Homo sapiens: one gene and its partners. The protein of the gene in region 2 purifies or fractionates together with the protein of the main gene of each other region. This does not show direct contact. Each region holds a gene or a part of one and is shown on either strand. Other genes may lie near its edges.

Evidence for each region.
Region 1: the proteins of LRCH1 (region 2) and HEPHL1 purify together in Homo sapiens (affinity purification with mass spectrometry; one large-scale study listed by BioGRID and IntAct). This does not show direct contact.
Region 3: the proteins of LRCH1 (region 2) and SUGT1 purify together in Homo sapiens (co-immunoprecipitation; 2 studies listed by BioGRID and IntAct, with this or other methods). This does not show direct contact.
Region 4: the proteins of LRCH1 (region 2) and POF1B purify together in Homo sapiens (co-immunoprecipitation; one large-scale study listed by IntAct). This does not show direct contact.

Annotation. Positions count from the first base shown.
Region 1 is NC_000011.10:94,104,798-94,109,412, forward strand, and holds part of HEPHL1 (ferroxidase HEPHL1 precursor), read left to right. Parts: intron 1-1,193; coding exon 1,194-1,333; intron 1,334-4,615. UniProt on the Homo sapiens protein: Is a copper-binding glycoprotein with ferroxidase activity. It oxidizes Fe(2+) to Fe(3+) without releasing radical oxygen species. May be involved in the regulation of intracellular iron content.
Region 2 is NC_000013.11:46,737,100-46,742,464, reverse strand, and holds part of LRCH1 (leucine-rich repeat and calponin homology domain-containing protein 1), read right to left. Parts: intron 824-5,365; coding exon 617-823; 3' UTR 1-616. UniProt on the Homo sapiens protein: Acts as a negative regulator of GTPase CDC42 by sequestering CDC42-guanine exchange factor DOCK8. Probably by preventing CDC42 activation, negatively regulates CD4(+) T-cell migration.
Region 3 is NC_000013.11:52,662,780-52,667,394, forward strand, and holds part of SUGT1 (protein SGT1 homolog), read left to right. Parts: intron 1-316; coding exon 317-333; intron 334-1,255; coding exon 1,256-1,278; intron 1,279-2,857; coding exon 2,858-2,954; intron 2,955-4,032; coding exon 4,033-4,140; intron 4,141-4,615. UniProt on the Homo sapiens protein: May play a role in ubiquitination and subsequent proteasomal degradation of target proteins.
Region 4 is NC_000023.11:85,368,607-85,373,221, forward strand, and holds part of POF1B (protein POF1B), read right to left. Parts: intron 1-4,615. UniProt on the Homo sapiens protein: Plays a key role in the organization of epithelial monolayers by regulating the actin cytoskeleton. May be involved in ovary development.

The sequences.
Region 1 (4,615 bases), on a different chromosome or scaffold from region 2:
GAATTCCTGTAAATGTAGGAGGCTCCCAGCATCCTTCTCTGAGCCTTTCCTCCTTCCCAGGGGCACCTGGACTGAAGAAAGTCCTCTAATGCTTTCCTTCAGACTGAACCAGCCTAGCCACTGATTGGCTGGCAGCAAAGTCATTGAGGCTTTGTACTAACTTGTAGGGACATGTATTTCTGAATCCTGGGATCTCTAAGCTCTAAGACTGTAAAGTAATTCTTTAAAAACAAATCATCATTTATTGTCATATTTTTATAAGAATATGCCATAACTTCTATTTGTTTAAATTTAAGGGCCAGGTTTAATTGTCTCTGGGATATGAAACACTACCATCAAATTTCTGTTTTAATGTATCTGTGTTACTTCTACATAATTTAAGGTAGTTTGTTGGTGGGAGTAATGTGTTCACATTGACACATCCACAGTTTCTCACCAACAGCTATTTTTGACCAAAAGTGCACAAAAAGGCCTTGCCCAAGGTCACAAAGCTACTTGTTAATATAGATTAGAATATAGTAGCCTGATTCCCCATTCAGCTACTCTTTCCCCTACCAGTTTTGCTTTCTTCTCCTAAAGATGTCTTAGTATGCTCTCCATTTTTAATGAATGCAGGTCATTTGGTTGCACCACAATGCACAGAATCAAAAGTCAGTAGACAGTGGAGGAGTGGGAGTCACCATCATGTAAACTCAGTTTGCTTTGGTCATTGTTAGGTCATGAGCTCAGCCCGTGTGAAGCTCTCTTTTATTTTTGGAGATTCAGCCAGGCTTAAACTATTCTCAACAAGTGAAATATTAAGAAAATACCTTCTAAGTCACTCAATTTTTATTTACATAAACTTGTTTATGCCTTGATTTGTTCTCTGTAGAGTGGTATAAATCTGACTACCTCTCCAATGAGACTGTATTTCCCTTCATAAAGAGATTATGCTGAATAAACAAACAAAACACTGCCACCAAGATACGGCTTTAAAACTGCTATTTCTCTGTTCTCGCTCTCTTTGTAGAAGGATTTCTCAGTTATCTGAATTTTGGGTCTAGAATGGTAGGACACTGCTAGGGGTGAGTGAGATTGTTGCATGTTTACTAGACAGATGAAAATATCAGTGACCTAAAGATCTTCTGGAAACATTTAAAAAATCAGCTTATCTTTTAACTAACCAAAGGTTATTTTCTTATCACCTTTTAAAGCCATTAATGGAAAGATTTTTGGGAATCTCCATGGCCTCATAATGAACGAAGATACAATGACAAACTGGTATTTGTTAGGGATAGGAAGTGAAGTGGACATACATACCATCCATTATCATGCTGAGAGCTTTCTTTTCAAAGTAAGTATAAGGAAAGTGCTTTGGGAAAGACGTTTTTGAACTAACAAATTCAATGTATTTCCAGTGGAAAATAAGAGTTACTTGGCAATAATGCTTGTGAGGATAGGTGAGAATGGAACAGAATAATGTGATTGTACCGTTTCCCTGGTGGATATTTCTTTTCTTTTTTTTTTTTTTTTTGAGACGGAGTCTTGCTCTGTTGCCCAGGGCGGAGTGCAGTGGCACAATCTCAGCTCACTGCAAGCTCCACCTCCCGGGTTCATGTCATTCTCCTGCCTCAGCCTCCCGAGTAGCTGGGACTACAGGTGTGTCCCACCACGCCTGGCTAATTTTTTTTGTATTTTTTAGTAGAGACGGGGTTTCACCATGTTAGCCAGGATGGTCTCAATCTCCTGACCTCGTGATCTGCCCGCCTCGGCCTCCCACAGTGCTGAGATTACAGGCGTGAGCCACCACGCCAGGCCTGGCTATTTCTTAATATGTATATGTATATTATTGTGCTTATAAAAATCTCTCCAAGCCTCAGGTGAGAGTTTTCTCATTAGTGATCTGGGGATAACTCTGACCACCCTGGAATATGCTGTTAATATTGTATATGAAACCACGGACACTGACAGCATTCGTCCCTTTTCCTCACCCTTCCTTTTTTCTTTCCCTTTCCTTCTCCCCACCCTTTTCTTTTTCTGTGTGATTAGCTAACAGAATAGCTCTATCCAGTAAAGGAGCTATTTTGAGCTCTGGCCTAAGCCCTGAAACTTTATCTTGACTTTTGCCCTAGTGAGCTGGGCTGGACCATGTGTGACTTTCTACCCTCTAGCATCAAGCTGTACCATATGGGTGGTGCTCACTGTACAGCAGAGCCATCTGGGGAACTATGTAAAAACCCAACTGCCAGGCCCGACCCAGACCTGCTGAATCAGAATCTCCATGGAAAGGTCCAAATAGTCTGTCATCCGAAGTTCTCAGTGCTTTCTACAAGGAAGTGGAATAGAAAAGAACAATCATATCCAATGTGTGGAGAAAACTGGAATTGATCTTTTCTAGTTAGACACGAATAAACGGTAACTTTAATAAAACATTTAATATCCTTTCTCCTTTGTATATTTCAACGTTGTTTACGACACCAAGTATTAGCCTGCTATGATTAGAGTTTCACATATTAAATGGCTATGCTGCTTTTCAGAATTTGGCTTTTTTAAACTCACATTTTAAAAATTATATTAAAAATTTATAAAATTTAATACACAAAATTATAAAAATTTACATATACACTTTAAAAATAAGATATAATTTACATTGAATACAATTCACCATATTTAGTGTACAGTTCTCTTTTGATAAGCACATACAGTAGTGTAACGAACAACAATCACAATATAGAATACTTTTATTTCCCCCACAAATTTTACCATTGCACCCTCTAGTGTCAACTACTTCCCCATACTTAACACTTGTCAACCACTGTCTCTATAGTTTTGCCTTTTTTGAAAGGTTATGTGGAAATCATAGGTTGTAGCATCTTGAATCTGGCTTGTTTGATTTAACATAGGCATTCAAATTGTATCCATCTTGTTATGTGTATCAGTGGTTTGTTTCTTGTGACTGTTGAGTAGTATTCCATTGTAAGGATATAATGCAGTTTGTTTATCTATTCTCCTGTTGAGGAACATTTGAGTTATTTTCAAGTTTGTTTATTACAAATCAAGTCATTACAAACATTTGTGCACATGTTTTTGTGTGAACATATGTTTTCATTTTCCTTGAGAAAATACCTAGAAGTAGGATTGCTAAGCCATGTGATAAGTGTATGTTTGATTTCATAAGAAACCACCAAACTGTTTTCCAAAAAGGCAGTATCATTTTGCATTTCCAAGGAAATATACGAGAACTCCATATGTTGCACATCCACATATGCAGTTGGTATTTTTAGTTTTTATTTCATTTTTTTCCCTTAGGCATTCCCTCCTTGGGGAGGGGATATAGTGGTATCTCATTGTTTTTCATTTACATTTTCCCAGTGGCTAATGATATTGAGCATCTTTTCATGTGTTTGTTTACCATCTGTCATCTGTAAATCTTTGGTGAAGTGTCCAAATTGTAAGCCCATTTAAAAAAATTGGGTTACTTGTTTCCTTATTGTAGAGTTTGAGGGCTTTATATATTCTGGATACAAATCCTTTTTCAGTGATGTGACTCACAAATATTTGCTTCCAGTTTGTGGCTTATCTTTTCATTCTCTTAACAGCTTTCAAATAGAAGTTCTTAATTTTTGATGAAGTAAAATGAAGTACAATTTTTCTTTTTTCTCTTTTATAGATCATACTTTTGGTGTCATGTATAAAAAATTTTGGCCTTACTGAAGGTCCCAAAAAAGGTCTCTGTTTTCTTTTAGAAGTGGTATAGTTTTAGATTTAGGGCTCTGATACATTTTAATTTTCATATGTGGTTCAAGATATGAAATAAGGTTCATTTTTTTTTCATATATATGTCCAAATGTTCCATCACCACTCATTGAAAAGATCATCTTTTTTTCCCACAGAATTGACTCTTTACTTTTGTGAAAATCATATTGACCACATATATGTGGGTCTATGTCTGGGCGGTCTCTTCTGTTACACTGGTTTATACTCTGCCCTTTCTTGAATGCCACAATGTTTTGATTACTTTAGTATTATAGTAAGTCTCAAAATCAGATGGTGATTGTTTTAGCTATTCTAGATGTTTGCCTTCCCAGATAAATTTTAGAAATAATTTGTTGATTTTGATTTTTAAAATCCTGTTGGGATTTTGATTGGTATTGCACTGAAGCTATACAATGGGTTGGACAGAACTGACATAACAATATTGAGGCTTCCAATCCATGAACATGGTATATCTATCGTTTAGCTCTTCTTTGATTTCTTTCATCAGCATTTTGTAGTTTTCAATATAGAGATCTTGCATATACTTTGTTTTATTTATTTATAACTAAGTATATAAAAGGCTTTGGTAATAGTGTAAATGATAGTGTTTTTATTTTGATTTATAGTTGTTTATTGCCAATATTTAGAAATATAATTGATATTTGCATGTTGACCTTGCATCCTGCATCTTTGCTAAACTCACTTTAGTTCCAATAGTTTTCCTATAGATTTTAGGGGGATTTTCTATGCAGACAATCATGTTGTCTGTGAATAGACATGGCTTCATTTATTTTCAATCTGTATGTCTTTTATTTCTTTTGTCTTACTGCAATGGCTAGGACCTGTAGTGCAATTTTGAATATGAGTGGTGAAAGTGGAC
Region 2 (5,365 bases):
CTTCGCGGCTCCCTTTTTAGGAAATTTGGGAGGAATCCAATCGAATGGCCATCAAGGCAGTGTGAGTACGTGTACACGTCCAACTTGGTCAGTAGTGGTATTATTAAAGTTTTGTATAGATCAAGTTGGGCCAAAATGTTAGTTTTCTGTCCTCCCTGCAAGGTGGCCCCTATACAGCTCAATTGCCCAGTCCCGAATTAGAATTCTAGTTCAATACTGACCCAAAGGAAAGACTTCCATATGCTAAATCCCTGTCCTTGACACTCTTGTCCTGGAATTCTCCTCCCCTCTGCCCAGGGCAGCAGCTCACCGGGAGGGAGAGGAGGAACTGCGTGGCACTGCTGCTGGCACTATGTGGATGAGGAAGCATGCGGTGTGCATACACTTTGCAGTCGTCGTCGTTGTATTTCAGTAAGTGAGAGGAATTATACTAAACTGTATTCTACAAAGTTTGTGCTTCTGGAAAATCTGATTTGCTACTGTTCAGCTTCAAAACTCGAGAGATAACTGAAGACATGACAGGGATGGAAGTTTGCAAGGCAAAGGCTCAAAGGTAGGAAGGACCCTGCAAAGGTTGAGGGCGACAGAGCACAGCGTTTGGATGCACGTGCAGACATTATGCGGACAGAGCATTCCAGTGGTAAGTGATATAGACCAGCACTATAAAGAGAATATGGACAAGACAGAAGCCTATAAGGTCCCTGGAGCGGAGGGCAGAAGTTGGTGGTGGGGCTTTCTCCCCGAGTGCCAGCAGAGTGTCAACAGTCTTTCGAATGTGACGAAAATCCAACTGCAGGATGTCACACGGAGAGCAGAGGTCAGCCTATTCCGAGGGCAGCCATTAGAACAGAAAGAGACAGTGCATACAATTAAAAATACACGGAGGAACAGCTAGAAAGAAGCACACATTTTTGGTTACTAGCAAATGGCAGGAGTAACCCCTTATTTCAAGCAGGTAAGACCCTTTCATCATCAAAGATTTTTTAATCCATCATAATAGTAGAATAGAATACCTATTTTGTGCCAATGGGTCAAAGAAATCCTTCACTCACAATCTCGCCATGGAGGAACGGCCTGTTCTGCAATTTACACATCATTCTGCCTTTCACACAGTTTTAATATTCAAGGTATCATGTGCTCATCAGTGGCATAAAAATAAGATTTTCACGTGGGACATTTCAACTTAACCTTACTAAATGAAAAACTATAAAGTTTAAAATGGAATCCCTACCCCCACTCTCCATTCTCTTAGTGCATTTTTTACCCTGGTCTATGTAGACTTGGATATAAAGTAGTTCTCTCTGAAAGTTAACACACACATTTAATTTTTTTTTTCATTTTACGCTTGATAAACTCTGGGCAATGCTAGTTCTAAGTATGTCCCTACATGTGTCAGAAAGTACATTACATTTCATATTTTTGCAACAACACATTAACCAAAAGTCTAGGGGAGGCTTCTTGGATGTGTAGTGAGAGTAGAGAGTAAAAGTACACCCCCACATGGAGTTACTATGTAAATTGCTTCACTACTAAACAGGTATATTGGGGCAGGGGGGGTAGACCTCTGTGTTTTATCTACTCAACAGTCACCATGTAAGGAAGCAGAACACCTATTTCTCAGCTAACTGCAAACTAAGAGGCTCAGTTTTCTGCGTTGACTTTCAGCAGCCTATTGCTGTCAGAAAGCAAACAATTGTCTCACATGCTGAATTCCTGAACCGGAAATGACCACAGTTTAAAATTAACAGGAATTATAATTGATATATTAGCAAGAAATAAAAGCTGTGGTTCTGTTTCCAAATTAAACAAAGATTGAAAATACGTGTGATCTATTTCATAAATGCAGTTTTATTTACAAATTAGGTGAGGCATTTAAGATATATGTTATGTATATTTTACATACTTTGCTACAATTTTGTCCTTTATTTTGGCCTCACTGCTAAGCAGCTGCACATCATGGAGTGACTGAAAGATGTTTCTAAGTTAGAAGTTTTGCCTCACTTGTGTCCTCTGAAGTTAGCTCGATACCCTCAGTTAAGTAGGAATACTACAAAATTAGGTTGGTTGAATAAGATTAAAAACATTCTAATTTTATTTTATTAATGAAGTTAGAGATACTCTTAACAAAATATTTTTAAGATGAATAAATCATGTTATATGTATTCAGATGTTGTATCTTTTCTCAGTGGATCTGGAGAAATCAAGCTACCACTGTTAGGGTTCTCCCAAGAATTAAAACAGCTACACATAAATTGGATTTCACTGGGAGACTGATGCTGCTCATGGATTAATAGATGAGGAAACATCTAAGAAAAGTTTTCTATTGCAATAAGAATTTTCTATTGCAATGTTGTGCTTGACCAGGGAAATCCGAGCAAAGCAGTCATAAGACAGAAGGCTGATATGCAAACTGAAATGTGATTTTCACAAAACTAGTATTTTCATGTTAAAAGCAGATGATTCTATCTTCACCAAGTATTTCAATACATTTCGCAGAACCCTAAGGAACATGTCTGGTCTGCTCTCTGGCAGCACCATCAGAGAACTAGAGTCAGATCAACTTGGCAGTTTTCAGTAGTACACTCCTCATGGGGGCAGGCAACACAGACCATTCTTCTCATCCAGGAAACAATTTCACGATGCCACAGACTCTGGGCTTAATTAAAGTGGGTGAGACCTAGAGTCACAGCCTATAGTGGTTAATTTAAATTAAATCATAATCTCTAAAGAAAAAGGAATGGATCTAAGACTGTCTAGTAGGCAAAAATGTGAAGCACCATGATGATTGTGTGGAGTGTGAGCTGCTGTGGCCATCTGAGAACTGCTCTCTGATTCAACCCTATGTCACATAGCCAACAGTCATTTCAGCCCTTGAAATGGGGCCATGAAGCAAACCAGGGCTAAAATTCCTAATTTCTGACCTGGGAGGTTCTGCCCTTTGTGCTTTCCAAAATTTAGCCTTACTGAGAGGGACGTAGAGATTATACTTTATTTCTTTATGAAAATTAAAATTGGAAAATGCTAAAAAGTAAGGAAATTTAAAGAGGCAAAATTTCACCATGTATTTACAAAGCATTTGTAATCACTGCAAGCCATTTGTAAAACACAGTTAATTCACTAAGAGTCCCCAGAGGCAAGTGCGGATGCTAATGCCCATTATAGTGAACAAAAATCACAATCGCCAGAGGTTAAGAAATTCACTTAGGTTGCACACAACCAGAGTGTGTGACCGAGATTACTACTGGACCAGGTTCCCCAAATACTATGGATACAAAGAGAAAAGTAGACAGATCCAGCAGTTCAGGGTGTACTACAGTCTAAATTCTAAGAGCTAAACATATCTAGGCAGAAGTTTTATTTAAAACTTTGGAATATATTTACTTTACTTAAATATAATCTTAATATAAAAAGTCAATATGCTTACAAAGTATTTTTTAATCTAAAATATCATAATATAAGAATGTTCATGGTCATTCTGCAATATTTAAAGCCATAATTCAGCGATGAGGTATAATTTGGCAGGGAGAGGAGAGAGGTGGGGAAGGATTTCCAGTCTTCTCCAAATATATGACAACTAATTGCCAATTTTATGAACTTAGAGAAAGCTAGGAATAGCTTGGAAATTAGTTGCATTCTTTATAGCTAGAAAAGAGATAGATTGGCTGTTTTCAATAAATTATGAATTTTAAAATTGATGTTAGTAAAACAATGAACCTGTCTTTCACCCTTAGAATTAACCAATATAAATGGAAAATTAAAATAAATCTTGTAATAAGAATCTCATCCTTCCACAAAGTGTTAGTTATGATTTAAATTAACACTAAAGTCATTGACTTGGGGAAGAAAAATAGGTATAAGGCTCAGAGAAGATAAGGGACCCATTTCTCTTATTCTTAAGATTAAAACAAAAAAACAGTAGCTTCAATTTATAGATTGTCTTTCAAAAACAAAAACTTCAATCAGTGGTATGTGTAATTTCCTAAACCCTCACAAGAGGTGTAAAGTGGGAACGCTATTATGACTTTCATATATAAAACCTTTAACACAAAAAATGCGAATATGAAAATTACAAAAGATAAGGAAAACTCAGCCATAATTCCACTTACATTGACACAATCATCATTAGCATCTGAATGTACTTTAGGGTTTTATTTGTAACTCCCTTTGGCTGATGCAGAAGCTCAAGGATGCCAAGTGACCTGCCCTTTTGCATGTGGAATGAAAACTTTCTCCTTCCTCCAGCACTCTGAGCTGCCCAGATAGGCAGGAAGGAGCCCTAAGCTGAAAGGAGGCTACCACTGTCAGCTGAGTTGCTGCCTTTAATCTTCTTCTCTATCTTTTCTCTGGAAACAGTAAGGAAGATGAAGGACTGAACATTTAGACAACAGAGTACATTTCTATTCTAACTCCCCTCATCTAAAGAAGGCAAGTCTGTTAAACTAAGGATCTCATGCCTTACAGAAGTTTGAGATCAAAGTTACCTATTTAAAATTAAGTAGAAAAATTTCCCTGGTGAACCAAATAAATATCTATTTCCTAATTTTTTGATGCTTCATAAATTAGATTTCTCTCAACCTGAGAGAATACTAATAAGAGCCCTAAAATATCCCTAAATTTGGATCCATTTGAAAACCTCCAATAGTCAACCATGAACTGTACCTACCAGGAACATGTAGCCAATCTGCTACATAGAGGTTAGAGGTCAGGAATCTCCAAGAGCACTCAGAAAAGTCAAAGGAAGCCCCAATGTGTCCATTAAAAGCCTCATGGGGTCAAGGCCTAATTGGAGTCAGATTCTTAGGTGACGCAGAAAATATATCCCAAAGAATTTGGAAGCCCACTAAGGCCTGTCTTCAAGACCAAGTTGATGCTTGCACTAGAGGTCGAAGACAGCTACAAAGTCTGACCACTAAGCATCAACAGCACAAAGGGATGTGGGATGGTACCTAATGCTGCTTATAATTCTGAATGTAGCCAATGTGAAAATGCTGCATTTATGAATCAGCCACAACAGAACTACTGTCTTCTACACTACTGTAAAAAGTGGGCTTAAAATACCACCAAGGGTTGGGCACAGTGGCTCATGTCCGTAATCCCAACATTTTCGGAGGCAAAGGCAGGAGGGTGTCTTGAGCCTAGGAGTTCGAGACCAGCTTGAGTAACACAGTGAGACCCTGTCTTAAAAAATCATAACAAATTTTTTTAAATGTCGTGGAGGGATAGTCTCACCCACTAACCTTTACTATTTATTCAGTGAATTTAGGTAGTATACTGCCACAACCTGCACAGACATGTTTCCTGGATATTAGAGAAACCACACAGTGGTTCCAGCTGCAGAAGCAAAGAGAAGTGTGTCATGAACCAT
Region 3 (4,615 bases), 5.9 Mb from region 2:
TGTTTTTATCTTTATAATTTCTTTTAAATAGTATACGTTTCCTTAGATGTGGACTTCCAAAGATACACTGGTTTTTGCATAGCTTCTTATGTTGAAAGGGGGATTTGGGTGGATTTGCTTGTATGGTATATCAGTAAGAAATTACTAAGGAGTCTAAAATGAATTCAGGATGCAAAATGAAACCACTTTTCTTTAGTTGAAAGGTACGGAGAATTTGCTTGCTTAATCAGTATGTTTGTGCTATAGAAATCATACAAATAACTTTGCTTAAAAATGCACTGTTCCCTGAAAATGTTTCCTTTTTATGTTTTAATAGGCTCAGAATCTGAGGTGGTAAGTCCAAAGTTTTCATTCTTCATGTTTTTATTATTTTAAATTTCAGCTACCAAATATATTTGAGACAAGACTCAGGATGAGCTGTCTGATATTTAAATATTAAGCAATTCCATTTAAGTGCTGGTTCCTCTAGGCACTGAAATAAAATCATTTTTTGATAAATATAGAAGTTTCCAGTCATGAAAATTATTGGCCTATTTTAATGAATTTAGTGTGTGGTTAAAGTTGATTTCGTGTGTTTTAATATGGTCATGATGATCATTTATCTTTTCGTTACTAAAACCTTATTGCATTTATTTAGGTTCAACAGTTTGAATCACTTGTAGGGCTTTTTATGATAGGCTAAGACAAAAGTTAAAGAAAATTGGAAATTGACAGGGTCTTGCTCTGTCATGCAGGCTGGAGTGCAGTGGTGCCATCATAGTGCACTTGAGCTTCAAACTCCTGGGCTCAAGCAATCTTCCCACCTCAGCCTTCCAAGTAGCTGGGACTACAGATGTACACCACCAAGCCTGGCTAATTACTCTGTTTCTTTAAAACGATTTTTAAAACAATGTTATTTTAGTTTAGGAAGTTGCTGAATCTTAGAACTGGCCATTTTATATAAGCAACCTTTTCTAATCATGCCTTTAGAAGTTTTCTGTTATTTAAAGTTCTGTTATTTTAGAGCAAAAATCTTTTATGAAATTCAATCTAAGATTTTTTAAATGCTGAGCATTCTAATTTTTTTCCGAAAACTAGTGGTATTTAACAATTACAGTTACTATGTCTTTGAAGAAAATTTTCATGTAGTTATTTTATATCAAAATAACTGCAGTGTTGGGTAAATTAATAATACATGCATTTTAATAATACAGTTGCTAAACTGACTTGTAAAAATCTTTCTCTTTCAACTTACCAAAATCAATCTGCATCCCAGTGGACTCATCAGTCAAAAATCAAGTGAGTGTTTCTTTTTCATAAAACAATGCATGATAAATATGCCTAAAGAGGAAGAAACCCTGTAGTTTAATAGTAAGCAAATTCTTACCATGTGATTTTTAAGTTTTTGTTTGTTTTCTAAAATTGTGTAATAGCTTTATGTAAAGCCAATTTTAAGGCTGTTTAAGGATTAATATTTGTACTTCAGTTAAATTCAAATCATTTCTCATCTTTAAAGTTGCTTCACTTGGTTTCATATTATGTTACCTTTCCATATGTTAAGGAGAGTCTCTTCCAGTTAAGTTTATGTTACTACACAGGTAAACAAGTTAGTAGTAGATCTAACAGAATTGTAACTTAACCTGCCTTTTATATTTGGAGCAAATTTTTCATAGGAACATTCTGTATGCGTTGAAAGTTAATATTGCTGAGGGCAGCAATTATAATAATGAATAAGCAACTAGCAAGTCTTTGACTTTTAATTATTCATTAGCCTGTGTACAGCTTGTATTCTTAGGACCGTAACAGAAACACAAGCCGTTGATCTGGAGCTTTGCATCCTTACTGAATTGCAAAGGGAAACCGAGACTCTTAAAGTTCATTTCTTTAATCAAGGTGGTTTTGGATATAATTACCTAAAATGGCCTGGAAAAGTTAAAAACCATCTATTCATGGTAGTTGTGGGGAGATACAGGATGAAACTCCAAGTACCTAGTAGATAAGGAACTTTGACTTGCCCTGGTGGCAGCAGCAGGGGTAGGGCACATAACCATGAAATAATAATTAAGGTGTTCAGAGCATAAAATAATCCCACATCTAACTTAATATACGTGTACCGGACACTGTGCTTGGTCCTAGGGATATAATAGCGACAGGATAAACAGCTCTGCCCTCAGAGAGCTTTTAATCTAGTCTAATTTGAAAGTGAGGATTCCTACGTTTCTAGAGCTTTCAGTACAAAAGATGCACATAATTAGAATCTAGACCCATTAGTCTTTCCATGTATCTTGAAATTGAAGGAAAGTGTTGTATATGATGTTGTGCCTGACACAGTTAAACTTCATATGATTTTAATTTTAGTTCATTTGCCCCTGTTTTGTGTGCTCAAGTCTATCTGCTTCCAACATCAGTTTTGAGAGCTTGGAGTGTTGACTCAGGCTTATTGCTTCACCTTTCTGAGCTTAAGTTTTATCATCTGTAAAATAGGGATTTAAGTGTTTATCTGTAGTATTTGGATGAAATGAGAGTATAAAAACTCTATTGATGGCATATAAATATTAGCTTGTTTAAAATAAATGACATCTTTAATATTTATATTAGTTTAAGCACAACAGTGCTAGAGATGAGTCAGAACCCAGAAAATCATGCAAGTATTTAAGTCTACTGGAAAGGTGTGAGCATCATTTACCTTACCATTTTTTTCCATTAGTACAGAGCATAAAAAACTAGTTATATAAAGTTGTTTCTGTGAATCAGTAGTTGCTTTGCTGTTTTCTTCCTCCAGGTGGGGCTCTTGTTGTTTATCAGACTAGTTTTTGTTTTGACAATAGCTTTAAAAAAATTAGAAGAGTTACCTAAGTTTCTTTTTTTTTTTTAATAGGTATGACTGGTATCAAACAGAATCTCAAGTAGTCATTACACTTATGATCAAGAATGTTCAGAAGAATGATGTAAATGTGGAATTTTCAGAAAAAGAGGTCAGTAGACTGAATCATTTTTCAATGTTGATTACTATTATTTGCAAATTTAGTATATTGCAGAATAATCGATAACGGTTTATCAGATAAATGCTATTTCTTCCTGAGATGATTTGGAAAATGTTGAATAAAATCTGAAGCCATTGCTTTGAGGTAAGAATATGTATGTTGGTAAATTATAGCTGGATGTGCATTTTTTTCTTTAGATTTGAAATTTAAAGCAGAATTTGGTTATATTAGTAAGATAATGTGCTTTGGTTATACTTGTGTGGTGTACTTCATGAAAAAGATCTAGTTAGTTTTGTGATCACACATGTCTTAGAATTGACTAGCCATGTTAAATGAGTATGACTTTTTTTGTTGTTGTTTTTTGAGACAGAGTCTCGCTCTTGCGTAGGCTGGAGTGCAGTGGCGCAATTTCGGCTCACTGCAGCCTCCTCCTCCTGGGTTCAAACAATTCTCCTGCCTCAGCCTCCTGAGTAGTTGGGACTACAGGCACATGCCACCGTGCCTGGCTAATTTTTGTAGAAACGGGGTTTCACCATGTTGGCCAGGCTGTTGTCGAATTCCTGACCTCAAGTGATCTACCCATCTCAGCCTCCCAAAGTGCTGGGATTAGAGGCATGCACCACCGTGCCCAGCCTCTTGAGTATGACTTTTAACAACTTGATTTCTTACCATTTAGTAGAGAACCTTATAATAGATTATTTAAAAGAGGTAGTGATAGAACTGTATGTTTTGCACATGGATCACTTTTTGTTATATATCATTTTGCTTTTGTATGTTTTCTTGAAATCTAAATATCAAATAGGTGTGATTAAATATATGACAAATATTATGAAACTTATTCTTTTCTGCTGTTTAATGATGTCTATAAGAATTCATGTCAAGGATACCAGATGGAAAAAAAAGGTTCTTAAATCTTTGAGAACCTTTTGAGGTTCTTAAATCTAAAATTCCATATATAATGTTTAAAATAATTTGTAACATTATTGAAGATTTGTCATTATTTTGTGTAGGTTTTTTACCCTCCATTATATACATTTACAAAATGTGATGCTAATTTTGTGTTCATTAGTTGTCTGCTTTGGTTAAACTTCCTTCTGGAGAGGATTACAATTTGAAACTGGAACTTCTTCATCCTATAATACCAGAACAGAGCACGTTTAAAGTACTTTCAACAAAGGTAAGACCATTGAAAAGTTTGTTACTAGTAATATTTTCAAAATTATAGAAATACTGGTGAACTAATCACCCATGTGTTTATAAGCTTGTAGATTCTTTCAGCCCTTTAACAGGGACAAGAAAATAAGAATGATAACTTTTGAGTATAAGGGTTATTTTACCTCTCAAATTCTAGTACAGTAAAGAATAAAAATCCACTTAGAGTGTGTGGCATTTGTGTATTTACTAAGACAGATATAATGTTTTTCAATAAAGGGGTTTTTTTAAAAAGATACAATAATCAGCCTGTCTTTAAGATTTGATACTGACAATGTCTCTTCCCTTGAACTTGTCAGTTTTGTCTGTTTTGATGTACAAATACTTTTGTCACCCTACCTCATGCAGTTAAAAATACAAACTACAAGAAAGATGAATCTGCCTTTTGTTTTTTTTGTTGTTGTTGTTGAGACGGAGTCTTGCTTTGTTGCCCAGGCTGG
Region 4 (4,615 bases), on a different chromosome or scaffold from region 2:
CTTCAAGCTAACTCTTAATTATGCTTTGTCTATTCTGCTTCTAGTCTAATTTCAGAGTAGGCTCTGTTGTTAAAATAATCTGTAAAAGTGAAAGAATATAATTTTTTAAAATGGTCCAATAAAATGATCAATCTGTCCATCATGCTGGCATTGTTTACATATTTCCTCAAAACCAACAAAACTGCAATCACTTCATTAGTGTGCAAAGAAATGATGGCGTTACTCAATCTCCCCATACCTTACCATAATTTACAATCAATTGGCACGACTCCATTATATCTTCCTACAAAGGTATAAATATTTTTTCTGTAGAACAAGGGAACTATTAAAAATCAGAATCATTAATTTACAAGGGAAACACTGACAGACTCATACAGAACTATAGCTATAATGTAGGTGTTACATGTATTCTTAAAACAGGACTATGCATTTACTCAAACTGCCAAATGTTCTGAATTCTTTCTTGTTGTTGCTGTTGTTGAACTTGTAACATTTTCATCCTCCACCACCCTTTATATCAACAGCAATACTGCAGGCTCAGTATTTCTAGGAATCTTTTGCATATATTCTCAGATTTTCTGCTAATAATTGAGAAGACTTGCTCAGACAAATGCAGAGAATTACAGATTATAGACAAAACAGGTACACATTATCCAGTTTAGGAAAATGGTTATAAATACAACCATGTGCAGGCAGGTTTGGCCCACAGACCCAAGAGGAGCAGATTCAAGAAGACAAGAAAAAAGAGGGGTGCTCTTTAGTTATGGAATAACACATGAACACATTCTTAATATAAACATTTATATAGATAAGGTTAAAGACCTTCTCTTGACCATCTTTCCTCCATTCACTTACCCAGAAGTGACTATTGTTGTCAGTTAAGATGTCTTTACATATATACCTATGTATAAATAGTAATATTATTGCTTTCATTGTTCTACAACTTAAACCAAACAGTATCTCTTGTATTATGTACTAGATACATGTTTTAACTCATTATTTTCAATTAATAGTATTCCAAAATGCTTGCTTTATAGCTTGTTTTTATGTTTTCCTGCTGATTAACATTTATATTGTTTCCAGGTTTCCACTGTGCTGCAATGAGCATCCTTGTGCAACATGTTTCTTTAGAATCCCACACAGAATTGGGATTGCTGGGGCATGGAGTATGTGTGTTATTCATTTGAACAGATACTGCCCAACTAATTTCCCAAATTTGACTATGATAATTATACATCCACCAGCAGTGTGTGAAGGTATTCATGTCTAGAGGATGTTTGGTCTGTTTAGGCTGGGGCTAATAATATTATACTAGTATCATTCTGAGAAGACAACTATACACATGGTTAGTATCTGGTAGCTGTTGTAGAAATGATAGCTCTGTCCTTCTTGTAACCAATTCAAATATGATGGCATTAGCAAATGAAACATAGCAAATCTTACTAGCCAACTGGACTAGCTTTTAAGATACAAAAGCGTACTAAGAAGTTTTATAAATCTGCAGAAATTTAAACAAATAGGAATACACACACATCACACATCACAGATAAAGACATTTATTTATGCTAGTATAAGCAGTATTACTTTATTCAGATGTTAAGATAATAGATGTTTAAATGGCAAACAGTTGTATTTGAGCAAAGACTAGTCTTGCCCTAAAATGAAGGAATTCTTTAATCTTCTTATATGTGGAAAGCTGGAACATTAAGTCCATAGATTATAATGTACTCAATTATTTTTAGCCCTACTTCAGCCTTCATTATTAAAATTGATCATCTAGACAAATGTGGCTTTCCCACGCAACCCTCATGGAAACATTAGAGAACAAATATAATAGGTTCAAAAATTACAACATTAAGATGTAGCTTAATATGAGTCAAAGATATTTAGACATATGGTGTTGAACAGCATGAATTTAAATTGCATCAGTATGGATTTAGGCTGATCATAAGGGGGAAAACCTCTCTGAAAATAGGTTTATTAATTCCAGAAATACTTGCTAAAGAAAACCCCTTTTCCCTGGAAGTCTACAAAATTAAGTAAGATGGTGTGAGTAAATGTCCAGAATGAACAAAACCTTGATGTTGAAAGGTACTTTCAATGGCATCAAGATCTAGGCAAGATTGCAGCAAGTCATCCCATAAATAGCCATTGACCATTCCATAGAAAGTGATCCAAAATATTTTTGAAAGAATGAATGAAAAGGAGATCTTAGTTTTAAAAGCACTCCAGGAATAACAATCCAAATCTCCCTCTTAATAACCTGTATCAGTCAGTGTTTAATTTTGTTACTCATCTGTGTATAGCTTACCTAAATCCTTCATGTTGAAACTATTAAATTCAATGAACAGTCAATGTTTTTGTTTTTATGCCTTTTGTGCCACAGCCCCACATTCCTGATGACCAAATAATTGAAGGCGATAATGGGGTGGTGGTGGTTATCATGACATAGTGGAAAAAGTGCTAGACTTGGAGTCAGCAGACCTGGATTTTATTCCCATTTATACTACTAGCCACTTTTGTAATACTGGTCAACTCATGTTCTCTCTCTGAGATTTGTTTCCTCATGTGAGAAATGAGAAATGGGATATGGGTGTGGGCGAGTGTGGATTAGAGGATCTTTAAGTTTGTTTCTGACGTTCTGTGAATATAAGAGACCATTCCCAACTTATTTTTCCATACAAACAAAACAATTTCAAATTTTTTAAACTTGTCAGTATTGTTTTCCTTTTGATGATGATTATAATGATGACTAACACCTATTAATAGCTTTCTGTGCCAAACATGTTACATAGATCATTCTCTTTAACACTCAAAATAACCCCATAAAGAAGATACTATTATAACCCCATTACATAAACAAGTGAAGTTAGACAGAGGTAGGATAGGTAACCAGATGGAGATTACACAGCTAATGCTAAGGTGCTGGAATTCCAACTCAGCATGACTCCAGAACTCATGCTCTTAATCACCATATTTTGCCACGTTTATTGCTTGCTTCATTATATTTTCTGTTTTTCAAGTTGTGTAACCTAATTATATGGTTAAGTTTGACTAGTCCTTATAACAGAAGGTCAAATACTGGGACTTTTAAAATTATTCAGTGTCAAAAGCAACTTTGGAGGCCTGAAAATAAGACACCCACCCACAAGTAGCTGTGTGAGAGAACAGCCTTGATTAGATAATTTAAGTTTCCATAAACTCAATAGAATTTGTAAAACGCGTGGTACATTTACAGAGTGTACTCACAAGCCTCTAAAACTCAATAAACCATTGAATTTTTGTTTAATGCTCATATCATCTAATCTCTTCAATTTTGCAGGAAGACCTTACTTTTTCTGATAAAATATTCAGCATTTTGTTGAGTCGTTTATTCCTGTGGGTCAGACTTGCTATATACACAAACATTATACTTTATTGGCAACTTTAAGTAGAGTCTGGTGAAAAAGAATTTGGGGCCGGGCGTGGTGGCTCACGCCTGTAATCCCAGCACTTTGGGAGGCTGAGGTGGGCGGATCACGAGGTCAGGAAATCGAGACCATCCTGGCTAACATGGTGAAAACCCGTCTCTACTAAAAATACAAAAAAATAGCCGGGTGTGGTGGCGGGCGCCTATATTCCCAGCTACTCAGGAGGCTGAGGCAGGAGAATGGCGTGAACCTGGGAGGCAGAGCTTGCCGTGAGCCGAGATCGTGCCACTGTGCTCCAGGCTGGGCGACAGAGCGAGACTCTGTCTCAAAAAAAAAAAAAAAAGAAATGAAAAAGAATTTGGTTTATAATTATGTGGGCTTGGGGATAATTTCATTACATCACTTGAGATAATTGTCCATACCTTTGTACACACTAAATCTGAGCTAGGAAACTCTGGTTTCCCTAGAGAATTCATTATTCATAAAAGTATATCTTATTTCCACCTATTTGTTAAAAAAGCTGTTTTCAGGGGAACATCACACACAGGGGCCTGTCAGAAGATGGGGACCTAGGGGACGGATAACATTAGGAGAAATACCTAATGTAGGTGACGGGTTGATGGGTGCAGCAAACCACCATTGCCCGTTTATACCTATGTAACAAAACTGCCCTTTCTGCACATGTACCCCAGAACTTAAAGTATATATATATATAAATATATTTTATTCATATTTATATATATTATATTATATATACTATATATATATATACTTTAAGTTCTGGGGTACATGTGCAGAAAGGGCAGTTTTATATATAAGCTGTTTTCAGAGTTAAATCAGATGATGTGCAAATGGCCTAAATGTCTCAGTTATTTACTTTAGTGAAAATGCTTTTGAGTAGCTCAGTGCAGTAAAGAAAGAAGGGAAGGCAGAAGCTCAAAAGGTGTTATTCTCCTTTGAAAGAAAGAAAACCTTAAAAACTTAATATATACCCTGAATTCTAGGATTATTTCTGAGCAAGACCTTGAAAACTAGAGGGAAAACTATTTTTGTCCTCTAATGTATTTTTGATATTTTCCATTCTGATAATGGAACATTAGAATGGGAAAATATACAGTAAGGGTAATCATCAAATGTTTTGTTGAAATAAAAAATGTGAACTAATTTAAACTGAAATCATGAATATCGAAAGTTAATTAAGGGAG